Linked DNA regions of Homo sapiens: region 1 is linked to region 2. Evidence: fine-mapped expression QTL. A gene starts in region 2. The other region holds a variant in brackets. All regions are shown on one strand. Distances are from middle to middle.

Region 1 (11,401 bases), 34 kb after region 2:
ACTGATTTTCATCTATTTGTTCTCTCGGTTACTGAGAGAAGTATGTCAAAATTTCCCAAAATGATTTGTCCATTTATGTAATTTTCTCAAATGTCGCTTTATATATTTTGAGTCTATTATTCAGTGCACATGACTTTAGACGGTTATATCTTCTTTGTAAATTGAATCTTTTTTTTAAACAAATTATCCCTCTTTTAAAAAAATTAGTGTTTGTCCAATATTTTTCCCACTTCTCTCTACTTTCAACTTTTCTGAGTTCTCATGTTTGTGCTTCTTGTAATAAGCATATAGATGGATCACTGCAATTTGCTTTATTATTTAGACTGACAATGTTTGTCTTTTAATGGAAGCATTTAGTTCATTGGTATTTAATGTAAATACTGATACATCTGGATTTTAATCTACTATCTTACCACACACAATCTTTTTTTTTTTTTTAACAGACAGGGTCTTGCTTCGTCACCCAGGCTGGAGTGCAGTGGTGTGATTACTGCTCACAGCAGCCTCAACTTCCTGGGCTCAAGCAATTCTCCTGCCTCAGCCTCCTGACTTGCTGGGACTACAAGTGTGTGAACCACCACACTGGCTTTTTTTTTTTTTTTTTTTTTTTTTTTTTTTTGGTAGAGACAGGGTCTCACTATGTTGCCTAGGCTGATCTCAAACTCCTGGGCTCAAGTGATCTTCCTGCCTTGGCCTCTCAAAGTGTTGTGATTACAGGCATGAGCCCAGGCTTTCTATTTGAACTACCAATTCAATGTTCCTTTGCCCCTTCTTTTTCTTTCTTTTTATAAAGGTTTTTCATTATAGAAATTTTCTAACGTGTACAAAAATATAGAATGGTATTACAAATCTCTAGGTACCCATCACCCAACTTCAACGATTATCAACTTCGGAATATATATGCAGGACTTGAATCTATGCTCTCAGGTTAAACAAACAAAAAGAATCAGCATCTTGTTATCAAAAATTAGCAACAATGGCCAATCTTGTTTCATTTATACTCTTACCCATTCCTCATCCCTCATTATTTTGCAACAAATATCAGAGACCAAGTCATTTCCTCCATAAATATTTCTGTATGTATCTCCAAAAGATAAAGACATTAAAAAACAAACAAACAAAGTACTATCATTATTCCTAAAAAAGAAAAAATACTTTTTTTTTTTTTTTAAGAGACAGGGTCTTTCTGTGTTGCCTAGGCTGGAGTGCAGTGGCTATTCACAGGCACCATCATCACACACTACAGTCTCAAACTCCTCAGGCTCAAGGGATTCTCCTGCCTCAGCTTCCAGAGTAGCTGGGACTACAAGTGCATGTCACTGTGCCCTGCCCAATAGTTTTTTAATAGCATCGAAAATGCTACCAGTGTTTAAATTTTCTCAAAGATTTCACAAATTTTTCTTTCCTTCTTTCCTCTTTCCCTTCTTCCCTCCTCCCCTGGGCCCTTTCTTTCTGTTTTGTTTGAATCCGAATCTACGTAAACTCTATACATTGTGTTTGGTAAACTTTTAAGTCTCTTCTAATCTAGAGAATGATTAAGTAACATTAGCCACTAGCGACATGTGGTTATTTAAATGAAATTAAAGACTGACTCAGTACCTCAGCTGCACTATCACATTTCATGTGCTCAAGAGCCACATGTGCCTAGTGGCTATCATGCGGGACTGTACAGACACAGAATACTTCCATCACCATAGAAAGTTCTGTTGGATAGTACTCCTCTAAAAGGTTTCTTTTCCATTTTGTTTTTACAATTTATTTATTGAAGAAACTCTGTCATTTGTTCTGTAGATTACCAGAGCCTGGATTTTGCTGATTTTTCTTGCTTTCTTTTAAATTGATTATTTTTTATTGGTCCTCCCTGAGCCTGAACACTAGCCTAAAAGTTCACACTCTTTCACTATTCTTTTAGGGGTTAACCCTATGTACTTAACCTTCAGATACTTCATTTTCTACATTTGTAAAACAGGTTTAACAGTAGTACCTACCTCACAGAGTTGTAAGAGCTGTTTATATTGAAAGCATTTAAAATAGTGCCTGGCAATTAGTATGTTCTCTACAAGTATTTTCTGTATTTAATACATTCCAAAGGTTTTGACATTAGTCAGACACCAGCCACATTTATTTTTGCTTTCCTCTTGTACAAATGGTCAGTCTACAGAATGGAATACTTACACGGCAGCGCAGGGACCGTTTGATCAGAAGATGTTTGTGGCGAGGATAGAGCTGTGAAGCACAGACTGGCTGGAAGTCAGGCTGTAACAGACGCTGCTGAAGGGTTGTTACTAGAAAGAAAGGCAGAAAACAGGCTTAGTTTACAGTGACTTTCAAAATCAGACTTTTATGTACCAGTAATTACACGAAGCATTACTGCCTTTACGAACAGTGTTGTTCATAAAAATGAAAATATAGAAAGTTGACATTTTAGATTTCAAACAATTACCTCTATTACAGCTGTTTTATTTTCTACATATTGTTTTTACTACTAACAGCTATTCCATTAAAAATCTCAAATCACTAGGTACATAAATAACAAAAACAGAATTAGATGTAGACTAGAAACAAAGTAGAAAAACACAGAAAATTACCCTCTGTTAAATTTACTGGTCTTGTATAATAGTCTTCAGGTAGAGGTTCCACTTCATCCACAGCCTGAGCTGGCTCAATCTTTATCTCTTTCTGATCCTCTCCTTCTTTAAGGCTGAAAAATTAAAAAAACAAAACAAAACAAAACAAAAGAGTAATTTCTCACGGATCCACCTGATTATCCTCAGTCTATGATATCAATAATTGAAGTATTCCTCTGTCATAGAATATCTGTATAGCGTAGGTCTTTTCTAAGTATGAGAATCTTCTTTTCCATTGACAACTGTGTGTGTGTGTGTGTTTTAATCTCATTTATTTGATATTCATTTTGATACCTGCTGTTCTCCTCAAAGTCATTTCATGTCTAAACTTACGAAAGTCCGGCAAGGGTACTGATGGATGCACCAGCTCGTGGTCGCTGAAGCCTGGTTCCAAGACCATATTTGTCCTAAACAAAGTTCAGAAATTCCTATTAGAAAGTCCACTTTTACACACCCTATTTATCAAAAGAAAGAATTTTGGGTAGGATAGCATGAGAAGCTCAGGGAAATAAGCAAAAAAAAAGCTAATCTAAAGGCTTCTTTTAAAGAAAGCAATTTGTAGCCCCACATCATTATTCTATTCTTAAAATAATAACAGCACTAAACATGGAGATTGAAACTATATTAATACAGTAAAAATGAACCAAATGTGAGCTTCTGCTAGTAATCTAAAAGTATCTAAGCTACGGCTCAGGCAAGAACTATGTGGAGTGTCTAAGATACACAACAGACGTCTTCCTGGAACACCAGTGGTCATCTGCTAACTTCTTCAGGGTCAGCAAGAATCATAAAGGAGAACTTACCACTACATGAATAGTATGTTGCTGTAGAGCCCCAAAATAGCAGCAGGTTGCAACAGAGACAAAAAATGCAGCATAAGATAGAAGCAAACGCATATAGCAGGCAGGTTATATGGGAAAATTGGAAGAATAATTCATTTAATTCAAATTCTACCTCTAAATATAACACACATTGGTGCATATGCTGACTATACCACTGGACTATTCAGAAAAATTCACTTCTTTTTGCAAATGTAGGTGCTTTGCAAGTGTTAATGTTTTTAAATTCTAATCTAGATTTTTTTTGAGACAGAGTCTCACTCCGTCACCCAGGCTGGAGTGCAGTGGCGCTATCTTGGCTCACTGCAACCTCCGCCTCCTGGGTTCAAGCGATTCTCATGCCTCAGCCTCCCAAGTAGCTGAGATTATAGGCGTGCGCCACCATGCCCAGCTAATTTTTTGTATTTTTAGTAGAGACAGGGTTTCGCCATGTTGGCCAGACTGGTCTTGAAATCCTGACCTCAAGTGATCCCCCCGCCTCAGCCTCCCAAAGTGCTGGGATTACAGGCGTGAGCCACTGCACCCAGCTTAATCTAGGTATTTTTATATGGACTTTACCAACCCTTAGGGTTTCAATGACTTAACTAATTTTCATGTGGATGCAGTATGACAAGTTGCTTAACTAGGTCCCATTTCCTCAAGCGTAAAATGGGGATATGATACTCCACAGGATTTTTGTGAGGATTAAGTAAAGTAATACATGTAAAGTGTTTATTTAGCACAGAGCTTGACACATCATTGCCATTCAATAAATGTTATTTATTGAATGTCAATTTGCTGGGCCCCAAGCAAGCACACAGAAAACAAACTGTACTATGAGAGCAAATAAAACTCGGGGTAAAATAACAAAAATTCCAAATCCTAATTTCTTTCTTCTTACTAGCAGTACGTAAACTGGTAGAGAATGACTCTCATAAATAATTCTTATCAAAAATTCTACTTGCATATATTACTATTTAACCACACAAGTGCACTATGTAAAAAGTCAGTGTTTTTCATCTTGGAGAAACAGGGGAGGATGTTAAAAAAATTATAACTAAAGCTGAGAAACCACTACTGCCAGGATGTCAAAGGTGGGCTACAGGGGTAATATGACTGAAATCTACCATTTGCCCACCTCCTTCTTCTCAGACTTTCTGTAATACACAAAAGCTGTACGTGGAACTCTGCAGTGCCTACAAAATTAACAGCCTTTCTGGGGAAATAATCAGAAGATAAAGGGGAGTGATGGAGAAAGAAACACAAATGTCCTCAAAACACAAATAACTCAAACAGAACTAATGATATAGCAAAAGCCTAACTATTGGACTTAAACGTCTATAATTTGAAGAATCCCTCTCTCTGATATCCACCATTCAGGAATCTAGGACAATGGCCATTTTCTGAAATGATCACTGTTCTTAGGCCTTAGAGGTCTTGCAAATCATTTTAGTACCAAATTCTCACCGAAAAAGCCAGAGGCATATAGTTTCTACGTCGTGCCAGTTTCTTGCGATCTCGCTCAACCTTCTCTTTCTGAGCAAGCTGCTGGTAATATTCAATCAATTTGTTCATCTGTAAGAAAATCACAGACTCAGTACACAAAAAAGCTAACAGAAAAC[A/G]TATCAAATTAATCAACTACACTGACTAGACACATAATGAATAGAGAAGACAAATTATTAAGATGGGCAAGTTTGCCCTTTTTCTTCTAAGATAATTTTTCTTCGTTATGTGATCTGTTTTCCGAAGTGAAATGGAAAACTGAAGTTCAAGGATGGGAAGAAATGGGCAATGAAGAGGCTTGGAAATTTTTTGCTCTCTAACTTCATTACTTATTTCCCCTCACAACTGCTCTTATTTTTTTTCTGCATGGCCACAGGACCACTTATTTCTAAGAACATAGCATTTTATACTGTATTTTATTCCCCAACTCCATCACACTTTTTAATTTTTAAAATACATTTTAATTATAAAAGCAATACATATTAATCATAAAAAGTTCAAACCAGGATGGGCACAGTGGCTCACGCCTACAATTCCAGCACTTTGGGAGGCTGAAGTGGGTAGATCACTTGGGGCCAGGAGTTCAAAACCAGCCTGGACAACAGAGTGAGACCTTGTCTCTATAAAAAAATGCAAAAATTAGCTGGGCATGGTGGTGTATGCCTATAGTCCCAGCTACTCAAGAGGATGAGGTGGCAAAAAAAAAATGGCAGATAGGAGGCAGGACTAACTTGCAGCTTCCCCTCAGACAGACAGAACAACATGTGGAGACTCACACTGTGAATTTTTATTCCAAGAACTACTGCAGGAACATACTAGGAAAACTGAAAGAATTCACAGACCCTTTAAAAGAAGTGGCTTGCTGCTGCAAAATCCATGAGACAGCAGAAAATCTGTGAGTGCCCATGTGTAAGAGGGGGAAAATCCACCTTCAAACACACATCCTCACTGGAGAACCTAAAAATCCAGATCATGGGAGAAAAATTTAACCTTACCTAGTGCTGAAACAAAATTTAGAGAGCCGAGTGAAATATAAAAATAGAAGAAGCAACAGCGGGAAGAGCCCTGTAGGCACTCCCGGTTCCCAGTGAAGCCCAGGGAAGTCATTTCTGACTTTAATCTCACAGGGGTCCTTGGGGAGTGCTGCCAGTGGAACTGAGGAAGGACCACTTGGAGACAGAAACTTCCAGGTGAACTTTGTAATAACTTTGACGGAGAGCAAATTTTCCTGGGCACAATCAAGATGGGGAAGGCGTAAAGGGGAAGTACAGATATGAGCACATAAGCCACAGCAGTCGGGAAGGGGCGGAGTCCAAAAGGCTAGCTTGCTTTTTCAGCAAGTAGGCTTGTAGCCTGGGCCAAAATCTTGGCCCTGCAAACCCCATGCTGTTGGTGGGGCATGGTGGGAGTGAGACTGGCCTTGCTGGCTGCATGGGAGCTGGGTGAAGCCTGTCACTGCTGGCTTTCCCCTACTTCCCTGGCCACCAGTATGACACAGCAGAGGCAGCCATAATCCCCCTGGGAACATAACTCCATTGGCCTGAGAACCACACAACTGTCCTTCACAGCAGCTGCAGCAAACCCTGCCCAAGGAGATTCTGAGCTCAGATATGCCCCCACCTGATGGTCTTTCTCTACCTGCCCTGGTAGCCCAAGACAAAAGACTGTAAACTCTTGGGAGCTTTATGGCCCCACTGATCACCTGGGAAACCCAAATACTTATCCAGGCAACCTTAGGGCAAGCTTGTATCCCCACCACACTACTGCAGCTGATGCTTTCTTGAAAGCGCCACCTCCTGGCTGGAGGCCAACCAACTCATTATAGCAACTCATAAAAGAACAACCCTGCCCTCAAAAGGAGAAAACAACAGCTAATTCCACCACCTGTGACATCCTGGCTAACCAGAGGTCCTGAGTCTGTCCACGTGACAATTCACTGCTAGCACAACCAGCATTAAAGAAAACTAGCATACGAAACCAAACTACAACCAAGGACCCTCACAGAGTCCACTTCACTCTCCTGCTATCTCCACCAGAGCAGGTGCTGGTATCCACAACTGAGAGACCTGAAGACGGACTGCATCACTGGACTCTTTGCAGACACTCCCCAGTACCAGCTCGGAGACTGATAGCTCTGGCCGGGTGGCTAGACCCAGAGCAGCAATAACAATAATTGCAGTCCAGCTCTCAGGAAGCCACAGGGGGAGAGCACCACATCAAGGAACAATGTCGTAGGACAAAATAATCTGAACAGTAGCCCTCAAGCCCCAGATCTTTCCTCTGACATAGTCTACCCAAATGAGAAGGAACCAGAAAAACAATTCTGGTAATATGACAAAGCAAGGTTCTTTAACACCCCAAAAAGATTACACTAGTTCACCAGCAATGGATCCAAACCAAGAAGAAAACTCTGAATTGTCAGAAAAAAAATTTAGAAGGCCAACTATTAAGCTACTCAAAAAGCTACTCAAAGGGGCACCAGAGAAAGGTGAAAACCAACTTAAGGGAATTAAAAAAAAAAAAAAAAATACAGGTTATGGACAAAAAAAATCTCCAGAGAAAGACAGCATAAATAATAAACAATCACAATTTTTGAAATGACAGACACACTTAGACAAGGCTTTTGAATTAACCCAATCTGACAAATACAAAGAAAAAAGAATAATAACAATAATAATAAAAAATAAAGCCTCTAAGAAGTCTGGGATTATATTAAGCTACCAAAACTAAGAATTGGTGTTCCCAAGGAAGAAGAGAAATCTAAAGGTTTGGAAAACTTACTTGAGGAAAGAATAGAAGAAAACTTCCCTGGCCTTGCTAGAGATCTAGACATCCAAATACAAGAAGCTCAAAGAACACCTGAGAAATTCATCGCAAAAAGATCACCACCTAGGCACACAGTCATCAGGTTATCTAAAGTCAAGACAAAGGAAAGAATCTTAAGAGTTATGAGGCAAAAACATCAGATAACCTATAAAGGAAAACCTATCAGGTTAACAGCAGATTTCTTGGCGAAACCCTACAAGCTAGAAGGGACTGGGGTCCTATCTTTAGCCTCCTTAAACAAAACAATTATCAACCAAGAATTCTGTATCCAGCGAAACTAAGCTTTGTAAATGAATGAAGGATAAAGTCTTTTTCAGACACACAAATGCTGAGAGAATTTGTCAGTACCAAGCCAGCACTACAAGAGGTGCTCAAAGGAGTTCTAAATCCTGAAACAAAACCTTGAAACACACCAAAATATAACCTCCTTAAAGCATAAGTCTCACAGGGCCTATAAAACAATAACACAATGAAAAAAAAAATCTAAGTATTCAGGCAACAACTAGCACAATGAATAGAATAGTACCTCACATCTCAATACTAATGTTAAATGTAAATGGCCTAAATGCTCCACTTAAAAAATACAGAATTACAGAATGGATAACAATTTACCAACCAAGTATCTGCCGTCTTCAAGAGACTCACCTAACACCTAAGGACTCACATAAACTTATGGTAAAGGGGTAAAAAAAGATATTCCATGCAAATGGACACCAAAAGTGAGCAGGAGTAGCTATTCTTATATCAGACAAAACAGACTTTAAAGCAACAACAGTTAAAAAAGACAAAGTGGGACATTATATAATGATAAAAGGACTAGTCCAACAGGAAATATCACAATCCTAAATATATATGCACCTAACACTGGAGCTCCAAAATTTATAAAACAATTACTACTACGCCTAAGAAATGAGATACAAAGCAACACAAAAATAGTGGGGGACTTCAACGCTCCACCAACAGCACTAGACAGGTCATCAAGATAGATGGTCAACAAAGAAACAATGGACTTACACTATACCCTAGAACAAATGGACTTAACAGATATTTACAGATCATTCTACCCAACAACTGCAGAAGATACATTCTATTCATTAGCACATAGAATATTCTCTAAGATAGAACATACGAGAGGCCACAAAACACGTCTCAATACATTTAAGAAAACTGAAATTATATGAAGTACTCGCTCAGACAGCAGTGGAATAAAATGGAAAATCACCTCCAAAAGGAACTCTTGAAACGATGCAAATTGCATGGAAATTAAATAATCTCCTTCTGAATGATCACTGGGTCAACAATGAAATCAGGATGGAAATTTAAAAACTCTCTGATCTGCATGATAATAGTGAGACACAACCTATCAAAAGCTCTGGGATACAGCAAAAGCAGTGCTAAGAAGAAAGTTCATAGCATTAAATACCTACATCAAAAAGTCTAAAAGAGTACAGGAGACAATCTAGGGTCATACCTTAAAGAACCAGAGAAACAAGAACAAACCAAACCCAAACCTAGCAGAAGAAAAGAAATAACAAAGATGAGAGCAGAACTAAATGAAACTGAAACAAAAGAGACAATAAAAAAGATAAATGAAACGAAAAGCTGGCTCTTTGAAAAGATAAACCAAATTGATAGAATGTGAGATTAACCAAGAAAAGATGAGAGAAGATCCAAATAAGCTCAATTAGAAATGAAATGGGAGATATTACAACTGATACCACAGAAACAGAAAAGATCATTCAGGGCTACCATGAACACCTTTATGCACACAAACTGGAAAACCTAGAGGAGATGGATAAATTCCTGGAAATATACAACCCTCCTAGATTAAACCAGGAAGAAATAGGAACTCTGAACAGACCAGTAACAAGCAGTGAGATTGAAATGGTAATTAAAAAAAACTGTCCACAAAAAAAAAGCCTAGGACCAGATGGATTCACAGCTGATTTCTATCAGACATTCAAAGAATAATTTTTATGAATCCTACTGAAACTATTCCAAAAGATAAAGAGGGAATCCTCCCTAAATCATTCTATGAATCCAGCATCGCCCTTATACCGAAACCAGGAAGGGACACAACAAAACAAGAAAACTACAGACAGATATCCCTGATGAACATGGATGCAAAAATCCTTAACGAAATACTAGTTAACTGGATCCAACAGCATATCATAAAGATAATACACCATGATCAAGTGGGTTTAATACCAGGGATGCAGGGATGGTTTGAAATACCCAAGTCAATAAATGTAATACACCACATAAACAGAATTAAAAACAAAAATCACAGGATCATCTCAATAGACAGAGAAATAGCATTTGACAAAATCCAGCATCCTTTATGAGCAAAACCCTCAGCAAAATCAGCATAGAAGGAACATGCCTTAAGTAAAAGCCATCTACGACAAACACAGAGCCAACATTATACTGAACAGGGAAAAGTTGAAAACATTCCAGCTGAGAACTGGAACAAGACAAGGATGCCCACTTTTACCACTTCTATTCAACACAGTACTGGAAGTCTTAGCCAGAGCAATCAGACAAGGAAAGAAATAAAGGGCATCCAAATCAGTAAAGAGGAAGTCAAACTGTTGCTGTTTGCCAATGATATGATCGTATGCCTAGAAAACCCTAGAGACTTATCCAAAAAGCTCCTAGATCTGATCAATGAATTCAATAAAAGGTTGGGCACAGTGGCTCATGCCTGTAACCCGAACACTTTGGGAGGCCGAGGTGGACAGATCACTTGAGGTCAGGAGCTCGAGACCAGCCTGGCCAACATGGTAAAACCCCATCTGCACTAAAAATATGCGTGGTAGCGGGCGCCTGTAATCCCAGCTACTCAGGAGGCTGAGGTAAGAGAATCGCTGGAACTTGAGAGGCAGAAGTTGCAGTGAGCTGAGTTTGCACCATTGCACTCCAGTCTGGCTGACAGAGAGAGATTTCATCTCAAAAAAAAAAAAAAAAGTTTTGAATTCAGTAAAGTTTCAGGATATGAAATCAATGTACAGAAATCAGTAGCACTGCTATACACCAACAGTGACCAAGCTGAGAATAAAATCAAGAACTCAACCCTGTTTACAACAGCCGCAAAAACCCCACCCAAAAAACAAAAACAAAATGCTTAGGAATATACCTAGCCAAGGAGGTGAAAGACCTCTACAAGAAAAACTACAAAACACTGTTGAAAGAAATCACAGATAACACAAACAAATGGAAACATATCCCATGCTCATGGCTGGGTAGAATAAATACTGTGAAAATGACCATACTGCCAAAGCAATCTGCAAATTCAATGCAATTCCCACCAAAATACCATCATCATTCTTCACAGAACTAGTAAAAACAATCCTAAAATTCACATGGAACCAAAAAAGAGCCTACATAGCCAAAGCAAGACTAAGCAAAAAGAACAACTCTGGAGGCATCACATTACTTGACTTCAAACTATATATAAGACTATAGTCACCAACGCAGCATAATACTGGTATAAAAATAGGCACACAGATCAATGAAACAGAATAGAGAACCCAGAAATAAACCAAATACTTATAGCCAACTGATCTTTGACAAAGCAAACAAAAACATAAACTGGGGAAAGGACATCCTATTCAATAAATGGTGCTG
Region 2 (10,723 bases):
GCATAATACAAGCCAAAAATAACACAAATTTATCAAATGCCAGTCTCTTTAAAAACCAACAATTTAAACCACAAGAGTTTTATCATCGCAAAGCTCTCCCTCCTCTACATAATTCATCATACTTGGATGCGTGCCATCCTTTAAAACTTGGCTGTTAGGTCAAATAGAATCCTATGTCATTATTACCATATGCCAGGATGGATAAGCACTCTTTGAGCTTTGGTTCTGAGACAGGGTCTCACTCTGTTGCTTAGGCTGGAGTGCAGTGGTGCAATCACAGCTCACTGCAGCCTTGATCTCCCAAGCTCAAGCAATCCTCCTGCCTCAGCCTCCCAAACAGCTGGGACTACAGGCACATGCCACCACACCCGGCTAATTTTTTTGATTTCTTAGTAGAGATGTGGTCTCACTATGTTGCTCAGGCTGGTCTCAAACTCCTCGGTTCAAGAGATCCTCCCAAAGTGTTGAGATTACAGGCATGAGGCACTGTGCCCAGCCACATAAGCACATTATTACTGTGGCACCATAAAGGACAATTTTACAAAAATTCCAGTCAGCATGATACTAACAATAGAGAGACTACAGAAAAATGTATTTTGTACAGAATGATCATTCTTGCAGTTTTTGCAAATAAATTATTCCAGGGCAGTTAAAGGCAAAAATAACTCTCTAACTTATACCCACAAACCTTAAATCTGTCTCAGTAATGGTATCACCTAGACCACCAACATATAGTGTGGTGATAGTTTTATCCTCTGGTGGGTCCAGCCGAGGCATTGTTGAAGCCCGCTTTAGAAGCTTGTCAGCTACAGGATCATTGATTCCGTAATAACGGTCTTTAATATTCTGATCAGCAAGGGGGTCATCTGGATCTGTAGGCTTCTCATGTCTATGATTCAAGAAAAAAACAAGGCATAAAGGTGAAACGAAGGTGAAAAAATGATTATCTTCCAAGAGTAGCTACATATTAAAGTCCTAGATACATATTCTGAAGTGCCTTTTGAACTAGAAACTATGGTTTCTACCAAAATATAATTACCAAAATAGACCTAATACCAAGAGATTTACTGTATCACGGAAGGAATTACTAGCCTCCTAAAAGCCATTAGGCCATCTAGGATGCCAAACTTTCCTTATAAATAAATACTCTTGACATGATCCACCCCCTCCCGCCCCCCAGAAAGGGACACATGATTACCCCTCTCTAGGTCAATGATTCTTAACACATTTGGGGTGCTGTATTCCACTGAGAATCTGATTAAAGCTATGAACCTCGCCCCAGAGAAAGCACATACATTATTTTTTAGGGGGTGGGGTTAACCAATCCCAAATTAAGAACTCCTAATCCAGATGCTTGGCAGTCTTAACCAAAACATACACACCCTTTAGAAGTCTGACCTTACTTTGACTTCAACTATACATTGAGAGTCAACTCATTTAAACCATGGCAGTGAAGATTTACTTCTCAGGCAGAAATGTTTAGGGTCAGCATCTATATTGTATGGCATAGCAATTTAGTTTCCAAGGCTCAATTGTAAGTAAAAACTACAATTTATTCATGCTCTTCTAAATTTCATAGTTCTAAGACATGAGGTATACCACATTAGTTGTATGACCTTTAGATTTTAAAGCAGAAACAGTTTAAGTTAGGACCTCCCACTTCTTAGATGAGAAATCATCTGAAAGCAAATACTGAAAATGAGGCTCGCTCTTGCCTGTATGGACATTCCTCTCCTCTCTTACACTCTCCTTTCACCCAGAAGGAGCAAATGTGGGGTCGATTCCTTTTGTAGTAGGGTGTGGTCCGGGCCAGTTTGAGCAGCATGTCACTGGTAGATGTGGCTTTCCCCAGCATGCCAACTGGCCGTGTTCCATCAGAGTTAGAAATCTAAGTGGGGATGACAAATTCAAAAGATAAATTATACAGACTGTGTCAATTCATTAGGATTTTTATCCAAAAAGTGGCAGCATACCTCTCTCTCCATATTCTGTGTATAGTACTCTTTGTTGACATCTGACTTTGGCATGTCATCTTTAAAAGACAATCCTGCGTCACGAACCTGGATGGGCAGGCCTGGTACAAAAAAAGAGGAAAAAGACCTCAGATGTATTTTAAAACATATCCATACTAACCATGCACACAGAATACATCATCTTTCCCTTCTCCTCTTTCCTATTTAGTACCAGAGACTTTACTATGTTTTTATTCAAACTCTTTAGCACCATCAGGTTACTTCTGCTACACAGCATGCTAAGAAATTGTCCAAATTCCTGAACTGTCAGGAAATTTGATGAAATTAATGCTTTAGAAAAAATCTTTTAGGCTGGGTGTGGTGGCTCATGCCTGTAATCCTAGCACTTTGCAAGGCTGGAGCTGACAGATAGCTTGAGTCCAGGAGTTCGAGACCAGCCTGGTCAACGTGGTGAAACCCCATTTCTACAAAAAATACAAAAATTAGCTGGGTGTGGTGGTATGCACCTGTAGTCCTAGCTACCCAGGAGGCTGAGGTGGATCACCTGAGCTTGGAAAGGTTAAGGCTGCAGTGAGCCATGACCATGCCACTGCACTCCAGCCTGGGCAACAGAGTGACACCCTGTCTCAAAAACAAAAAACAAAAAAATTATAAAAGAAAATTTTTAGATGAACAAACTGTGCCCATGGTCATATTCAACCTGTAAATTAGCTCCTAGTTTTTATTACAACATGATTTATTTAAAGTAAATGTAAAAGTGGTTTCTTTCTAGGTTAGTCTTACAGATCCTCTGGATAGTCACAGTCATCTAAGGGTCACTGTACTCCAGGACCAGACGCCTCCTTAACAAACATATAAATAATATTACATAAAATGTGGCCAGGACTCTGACTAGAAGAGTAACTCTAATGAACTTAACATACATAAACTCATATATTTTTCCCTTTCCTTTAATAGTAAAAACTCTTGTTGAAAAATTATCTTTCTGAAAAACAGTCACCTATGGTTAAAAAAAAAATTACTCCCAAAAGCAGTTACTCTGAAACAGTAGCAATATATCAGTTCTAACAACACAATTGAAATAAAAGTCTAAAGCACAATTAGGCTGGCTATAGTGGCTCTGGGAGGCCAAGGTGGGAGGACTGCTTGAGGCCAGAAGCTCAAAACCAGCCTGGGCAAAATAGTGACACACACACACACGTGCACTGGGTGTGGTGGTATACCAGGAGGCAGAGGCAAGAGGATCCCTTGAGCCCAGGAGTTCGAAGTTGCAGTGAGCTGTGATCACACCACTGTACTCTAGCCTGGGTGTCAGAGTGAGACCCTAACTCAAAAAATAAAATAAAATAAAGCACAATTACCCTGTGAGCTTCTGATTGGGATGGTGGAAAAAAGCTCTGGATCAAGAAAGAAGCCTAAGGCAAATAAATTATCTATCATAGGATCAACGCCTTTTACCTCACTTGGGCTACAGAGATGAAGGTTTAGGCCACTTTTGATTAATTCCCAACTTTTCCTTAAGTTCCTACTATTGTTCAGGACTCTAGAGTGGCCTAATTATGGTTCTTTTCCTGGGAAAAGCAGACCACGGCAGACATTCCAAAGTGAAATCAGAACCAGAGCTAGGGTGCGAAGTGGGAGACAAAAGACTGACTTGTAGTTTTAGGCACCTGCACACTTTCAGATTTATTGGACAGGTCAAACATACCATACTCTAGGTCTAAGAGGCAGGTCTGACAGACATTCTTCAATTTACTGCAGGTTTGGCACACTTCAGTCTTCTTGAAACGCATGCGGACTCCAGGGCACCAGCGAAACACTGTGAATGGCCTGGCACAGATCTGGAACACAAAGCAAGAGCCATAGAATGTCAATGGTCCTGATCTGGGCAATCTGGAGATCTGATAACAACGGGGCATTCAAAAAAGGATCCCTGAATGTAGGATTTAGAAGAGACCTTAGCAATCATCTAGTTGATTTGATGTTTCAATACAATTTTCAGCATCCTTCTCCAGCAAAAATTCAGAGTACAGAAATGAAATAGCCAAAGGGTCAAAGTTCTTCCCATCCTAGAGCTAAGCACCAATAATAATCTGAACCTTAATCTTTTTTAGGGGGAGTGGGGAGTGTCATGTAATTTTTTGAGAAGCTTCTGACAAGAATGACCTTCCTCCTCAGCTAAAATGCTCGAGTGGACAGTCATACACCACCTGGTGTACAAACTCCTCCAGTGCCCATCCACTGACACCGTAAGAATCTCTACATTAGAGGGTTCATTTTCTTACCTCCCACATAAACAGTTGCCAGCCAATGAATATATCAGTAATACATAAAAAGTTGTATAGCACTGATTTTTACTGGAAGACCTCAAAACTTAGTAAGCTGAAGGCTAATTTGGTAGAGAAAAGAAAAATGAAACAGAAATCATTACTCTTTAACAGACATACTTACTTTGCATTCCTTCCCATACTTTTCTTTGGTCTATAATAGAAAAAAAATAGAAAAGAACTGGAGTTACAGAAAGAAAAAAGCCAGATGTCTACTCTTTCCTTAAACATAACCCAAGAAATGTGTCTGGAAATCCCTGGCATCCTAGAGAGAGAAAAACAGCAACAACAAAACCCAAAACCCAACCTTTTTTGGGAAGAGGGTAGGGAACATACTATAACAACATATTATAAGTGATAACATCTCAAGAGTATATGGATCTGGGCTGGGTGGCAGTGGCTCACGCCTGTAATCCCAACACTTTGAGAGGCCAAGGTGGAAGGATTGCTTGAGCCCAGGAGTTCCAGACTAGCCTGGGCAACATAGCGAGATGCTGTCTCTACAGAAAAAAGAAATAGAGTATATGCATCTAATGCTAGGTAAGTGAGTGTCTTTCCACAGCCACAACTCTTAGGTTCATTTTTGGCTCCCAAGTTCACTCCCAAGAACTAACATTCCTAATGCTTTCCACAATCCCTAAATCAGAGAGGATACAGCTGTGGCCCGCCCACTTTACAAAGTTTAGTCAAAAGGTAGCTACTGTAGACTTGTCCTGTGCCAATGCCCGGAATATAGTAAATGTTCTGTTTAAACAGAACTATTCAAACATCTTGAACCATTCAAACATCGTGAACATACTAACATATCAACACCTCTACGACTACACAATAATACAGCCCTAACCTTATTATTGTTAACTGGTTCTAATTTTACCCTAGTTTGTAACAAAGGGGGAATGCTTACTTTAAAGAGATAAAGTACACTGGCCAAAAGGCATTTGACCAGGATTCAGGAAACCTAGTTTCTAGTTCTGGTTCTCCTCCTATCATGCTGACATTCCTAGAGCCAGAATATGTGAACTTAAATCCCAGCTCCATTCCTTACTATTGTATGAAAAGACACAAACGCTCTCACCTTCTGGTCAACAGACCTATTTCCTAGGTAAATGCTCAACAAATACTAGCTATCGTTATTACCCCTACATTACAGGAGTGTTACCGGATTCGTAAGAGAATACACATGACAGTTCTTTGCAAGTCGTCCAGCACTTCGCGTTAGTAAAAGAGCATCATTTTTTCTGCTTGTCTAAGAGAAACACTTCACAGTGTGCAAGTACCACAACATCGACAGGACATGAATAACTCGTTTCACACGCGATCACTCACCATTCGGATATATGGGTTTTCTCCAAGACATGTCTGGCACAGAATGGGGAAGTCCTGGTGAAAATGGGAAATCTGGTTGAGGACCACCCTCCGAAGACCCTGACACCTCAGTGACACTTGGGGTGGCGAGGGGGCGGGAAGCGAGGGTGGGGAACTAGGCACGGCAGGAACCCGAAGTCCATCACGACCCGATCGCGGGAGGGGGCGCTGTCTGCACTTCCGGCAGGCGGCGGGAGAAAAGAAAACCAGCTCTAATAGGCTGGAGGGGGCAGGGATGGAAAGGGTGCTGGTCCCGGGACCCTGGCTAAGCCCCCTCCCTTCAAGCCCGCAGGAGGATCGCCCTCCGCCCTCCTGCTCCGGCCAAGCTAGGCCGCCGCGCTGGCTCCTCCCCGGTATTCCTTCGGCCGCGCCGCAGGCCCTGTCCTGCCAGCTTGCAAGGTGCGCGGCTTCGCCTCCTCCTTCCATCCTCCTCCGGCAGGCACACTCACCGCATCCTCCCAGTTCTGCCTGTTGTAGGTGTTGGAACCCAGAGAGGTCGCCATCTTGAGAGCGTCCGGAGGTAGCTGTAGCTTCCGAATTGGGAGAGAGGACCGCCACAATCCCGTCAAGCCCCGAGGCTAGCGCCGCGCCGGTCGGCGTCTTATTTACGCGTCTAGGGCTTCTTCCGGGGCGGGGCCTTTGCGTCATGACGTCGCCCGCTCTTGGAATTTCTAAGCTTAACAATTGGGGTCCTGGTATAATGCACCTGGATGCTTCCTTCGAGTTTTTGCCTGCTTGGAATGAAGGGCCACACGTACAGTTGATTCATTTAACAATTGGGCGAAAGAATAAAGGAAGACGTAATGCATCAGAGGCTGGGGTTAAAATAGCGTTCGCTACCACTGAGGCGCTTATTATGCCAAACTCTGGGCGAACGTCTTGCGGTTCCAGTGTCTTATTTATTCGCATAACCTCTCTGTAGGGCTCTCTGTAGGGCTGCCAGATTCTGATTCTGTCTCTCTCTCTCTCTCTCTCTCTCTCTCTCTCTCTCTGTCACTCACACACACACATGCACACACACACACGCACGAATTACAGAACGTCTAAAGTTGAATTTCAGATTAACGGCGAATCGCTTTTTAATTATAAATATATATGGTACCTACTCGTCCTAAAGTAGGATTCGTGGTTGACCTGAAATTCACATCACTTAACCAATCGTCCTGTATTTTATCTGGTAACTCTACCCTGTAGGCAAGTATGATGATCCCTCTTTTATAGAAAAGAAAACAGGTTTAGAGAGATTAACCTAATCTCTCCTGATATAGCTCCTGGTTGTGGAGCTAAAAAGTGGTGAAGCCACAAATTCATTAGTACTGTTTCATTTCCAGCTTCTGAAATGACAAGGGTCTTACGAATCAACATATGCATTATTTGATTTTTGGAATAACTCATAACCACTCTGCCAATATTTTATGAGTTTCAAGCCATTCTGGTACCACTTTCATACTTACCGTGTCATCAAGCTACCTAACACATTTATTTAAATCACCTCATTAAAAAAAAAAGTTGATTTAAAGTATAATTTACATAAAGTTTTATCCTTTTTAGTTTTGAATTTTGTACATACATTCACTTACAGTCAAATATGGAATTGTCTGTCATCCCCAAAGTTCCCTTGTTTCTGTAGTTAGTCCACTTATCCCATACTCAAACCATGGCAATCACTAATTTGTGTTCTGTCCCTAGTTTTGCCTTTTCCAGAATGTCACATAAGTGGAATCCTATATATCCTTTTGGATCTGATATTTTTTCACTTAGTATTTTGTAGTTGAGATTCATCCATATTATTACATGTATCAATAATTTCTTCCTTTGTATTACTGAGTAGAATTCCATTGTATGGATATATCATACAATTCACTTGCCAGTTGCTGGATATTTGGGTTGTTCCCAGATTTTAGTGAATATAAATAAAACCATTATAAACATTCACATACAGATCGTTGTATGGACATTGGTTTTCATTTTGCTTGTGTAAATGCCTTAGAGTGAGATTATTTGATCATATGGTAAGTATATCTTTTCCTTTATAAGAAAGTCCTTGGGTTTATCTGAGCTTCTTGGATCTGTGATTTGTTGTCTTTTATTATATTTGGAAAATTCTCAAGTATCATCTCTTCAGACTGTCTTCTGCCTGGTTTCTACATCTGTGACTCCAATTTCACATGCCTTGTGAGGAGTGCAAGGTCAGAAATAACAGAGTCCACGTACATTTGTGTTTTTCCACAATGCCAGACTTTTACTGATGCTATTTCAATCACAAAAGCCACGAACTACATGGAGTTTCCAAGAAAGCAATTCTCCTTAGTACTTCCCACTCACTCAGCACTCAGAGTCTTGGACACACAGGCTCAAGGCACTCCACAGGTCAATCAATATTGCAAATCATGCATAATGGTATACTTAATCAACATATATATTATAGAGTGAACATTCCACAAACAAAATAACATTTAACATTAAGAGAAAAGAGATAGGACCCTTTTCTCCTTTAAGTCTGGAGCCCTCAGAATCATCTCCTTTCCTTCCTTTTTCCCTCTTTCCTCCCCCAATTTATTTTTTAATCTTTGTGGGACATGACTTCTAGGAATGAGCCTTCCTAGCAACATGGAACATGACTTCCTAGGAATGAGCCTTCCTAGTAACGTGAGACCTGAATTTCCTGGAATAAACCATCCTAGCGACAAGAAACCAGCTCAAAAAAGGAGGAAAAAGCGAACTGAGGCCAGGAACACATATTCCTTTTAAAATGCTTTCTCCAAAAGATGTTAAAGAAAAAAAGGGGGAAATGTGAAAGGAAATTAAATCTTGGGACCCCAGACTCATTAAGCCAAAGGGAAAAGTCAAGCTGGGAAGTGGGTCACACAAACCTGCCTCCCGCTTTTGGTTCCTAAATAAGATGGCTACAAGATGGAAAGCTACATGCCTCCCCCATATTTTGCCCACAAGGAAATTCCTAGTGAGGAATTTTACTTTCCTAGAAAGGAAAAAAGAAAAGAGATGAAAAAATATATATAGGGACTAGGCCAGATTTATAGCAACAAAAGGAAAGCAAACCTGGAAGCTGGGTCAAGCTTTATTATATTACTGCCTCCTCAATTAAAGCAATTCTCTGGGCAATCATTACCTTAGCCCTTTCGGTTGCATATTGACTTATTTGCAAACACGTACTATAACAACATTGTAAGCAGAAACAGGACAGAACATAAATTATTCCTTCTATTATAAGCAATAGCTTCTGCCACTAAATTCCCCAGGATCCAAACCAACCACTCAAGCAATGGATTAGTGAGGGTTTTGGATCTGACAGTTGCTTATCTGGGTTTTCATACTGGTCATAATTCAGTTTATGTTCTTTGATTCATCTGGAATATACACACAACATTCAGTTTTTACGGTGGCACAGGTTCCCCTTGTGCTGCCATGAGTATATCTAAAGCCACATAGTTTTGCAACACAGCTTTCCTCATAAGCATGACCTCATTGCTTAGCAAAGAGGTACTCATGCAGCTACCATTTAGGGCCTTTGGGTGTAATTCGTTATGGCCTCTATATGCCATATAACATCTTCGATACCTATCTGTGGTACAAAGATTGAAGCTAAGTGATCATAGCACTGGAATACCAAACATGTCCAATGAGATTGTAAATGAAAAAGGTTTGCTGGTTTAATGGAAGGGTCTGAATTACTGGGCAACATATGGGGGAGGCATGTAGCTTTTCATCTTATAGCCATCTTATTTAGGAACCAAAAGCAGGAGGCAGGTTTGTGTGACCCAGTTCCCAGCTCGACTTTTCCCTTTGGCTTAATGAGTTTGGGGTCCCAAGATTTAATTTCCTTTCACAATATATATAATCCATATTTTCCTTTTCTTTTTTTTCGAGATGGGGGTCTCACTTTGTCACCCAGGCATGATCATAGCTCACTGTTACCTGGAATTCTTGGGTTCAAGGGATCCTCCAGCCTTAGCCTCCCAAGTAGCTGTGACTATAGAAGCAGGCCACGGTGCCCAGCTAATTTTTAACTTTTTTGTAGAGACAGGGTCTCACCATGTTGCCCAAGCTGGTCTCGGAACTCCTGGGCTCAAGTGATTCTCCAGCCTTGGCCTCCCAAAGTGCTGGGATTACAAGTGTGAGCCATGGCACCTGGCTCCATGTTTTCCACCAGATTTTTTAACATTGTAGGGGCCAACAGAAAAGTTCCCCTTTGCCCTCTTAAGATTCACTGAAAATTAACTAGCAAAAGGCAGATTAATAGGAGAAAAGACATACAAATTTATTTGATCATAGTTTTACCTGACATAGGAGCCTTCAGAATGAAGACACAGATGGGAAATTGTCCATTTATATGCCTAGGTTCAACAAAGTATGGACAGCTATGTAGAAATAGGATTGGACAAAAAGCGTACTGATTTAGCGCTAATAGACTGAGTGGGGAAACCCAGCGAGGCCTGTCTGTCTAGATTCTTGGCCTCTCTCGGCAGCATTCCTTCCTTCTGGGTATGTACAGGACCGTCTTTGGAATGGGGGTCTTATGACCTACAATCTAAAACAAAGTAGCTCAGATAATTTATTCAGAGCCAGTTTTTACACAAAAGCAAGGCGGAAGTTAGAGTAGTTTTTTTTTTTTTTTTTTTTTTTGAGACAGAGTCTTGCTCTGTCGCCCAGGCTGGAGTGCAATGGTGCGATCTCGGCTCACTGCAACCTCCACCTCCCAAGTTCAAGTAATTCTCCTGCCTCAGCCTCCTGAGTAGCGGGGATTACAGGCACGCACCACCATGCCTGGCTAATTTTTGTATTTTCAGTAGAGACAGGGTTTCATCATGTTGGTCAGGCTGGTCTCGAACTCCTGACTTTGTGATCCACCTGCCTCTGCCTCCCAAAGTGCTGGGATTACAGGTGTGAGCCACCGCGCCCGGCCTAGAGTAGTATTTTACATTTTATGGCTGGCTTTGGGGAAAAGGGGTTCTCTCTATGACCCACCTTGAGGAAAAGGGATTCAGTGTCTGTGGCTAGGCTTGGGGAAGAATGAAGGGCCAGAGACAGGAAGGCAGA

What was found. PIP is the estimated chance that this variant, and not a neighbour inherited with it, causes the effect.
Region 1: its variant is fine-mapped to the expression of RBM22 in whole blood (TOPMed, PIP above 0.99).

What each region holds. Positions count from the first base shown.
Region 1 is chr5:150,728,456-150,739,856 of GRCh38, forward strand. DCTN4 (dynactin subunit 4) reads right to left here. Exons shown (of 13, transcript NM_016221.4): 5 at 4,913-5,020; 6 at 2,961-3,034; 7 at 2,589-2,701; 8 at 2,176-2,285. Among named protein-coding and RNA genes, the nearest start is that of DCTN4, 25 kb to the right of the region's middle. RefSeq lists an enhancer at 6,474-6,703. The variant A/G (reference allele first, on the strand shown) is at 5,068.
Region 2 is chr5:150,694,818-150,705,540 of GRCh38, forward strand. RBM22 (RNA binding motif protein 22) reads right to left here and starts at 6,245. Exons shown (of 11, transcript NM_018047.3): 1 at 6,115-6,245; 2 at 5,627-5,680; 3 at 4,425-4,454; 4 at 3,682-3,814; 5 at 1,974-2,074; 6 at 1,716-1,888; 7 at 689-889. The coding sequence starts at 6,168. RefSeq lists enhancers at 5,487-6,263, 6,264-7,040.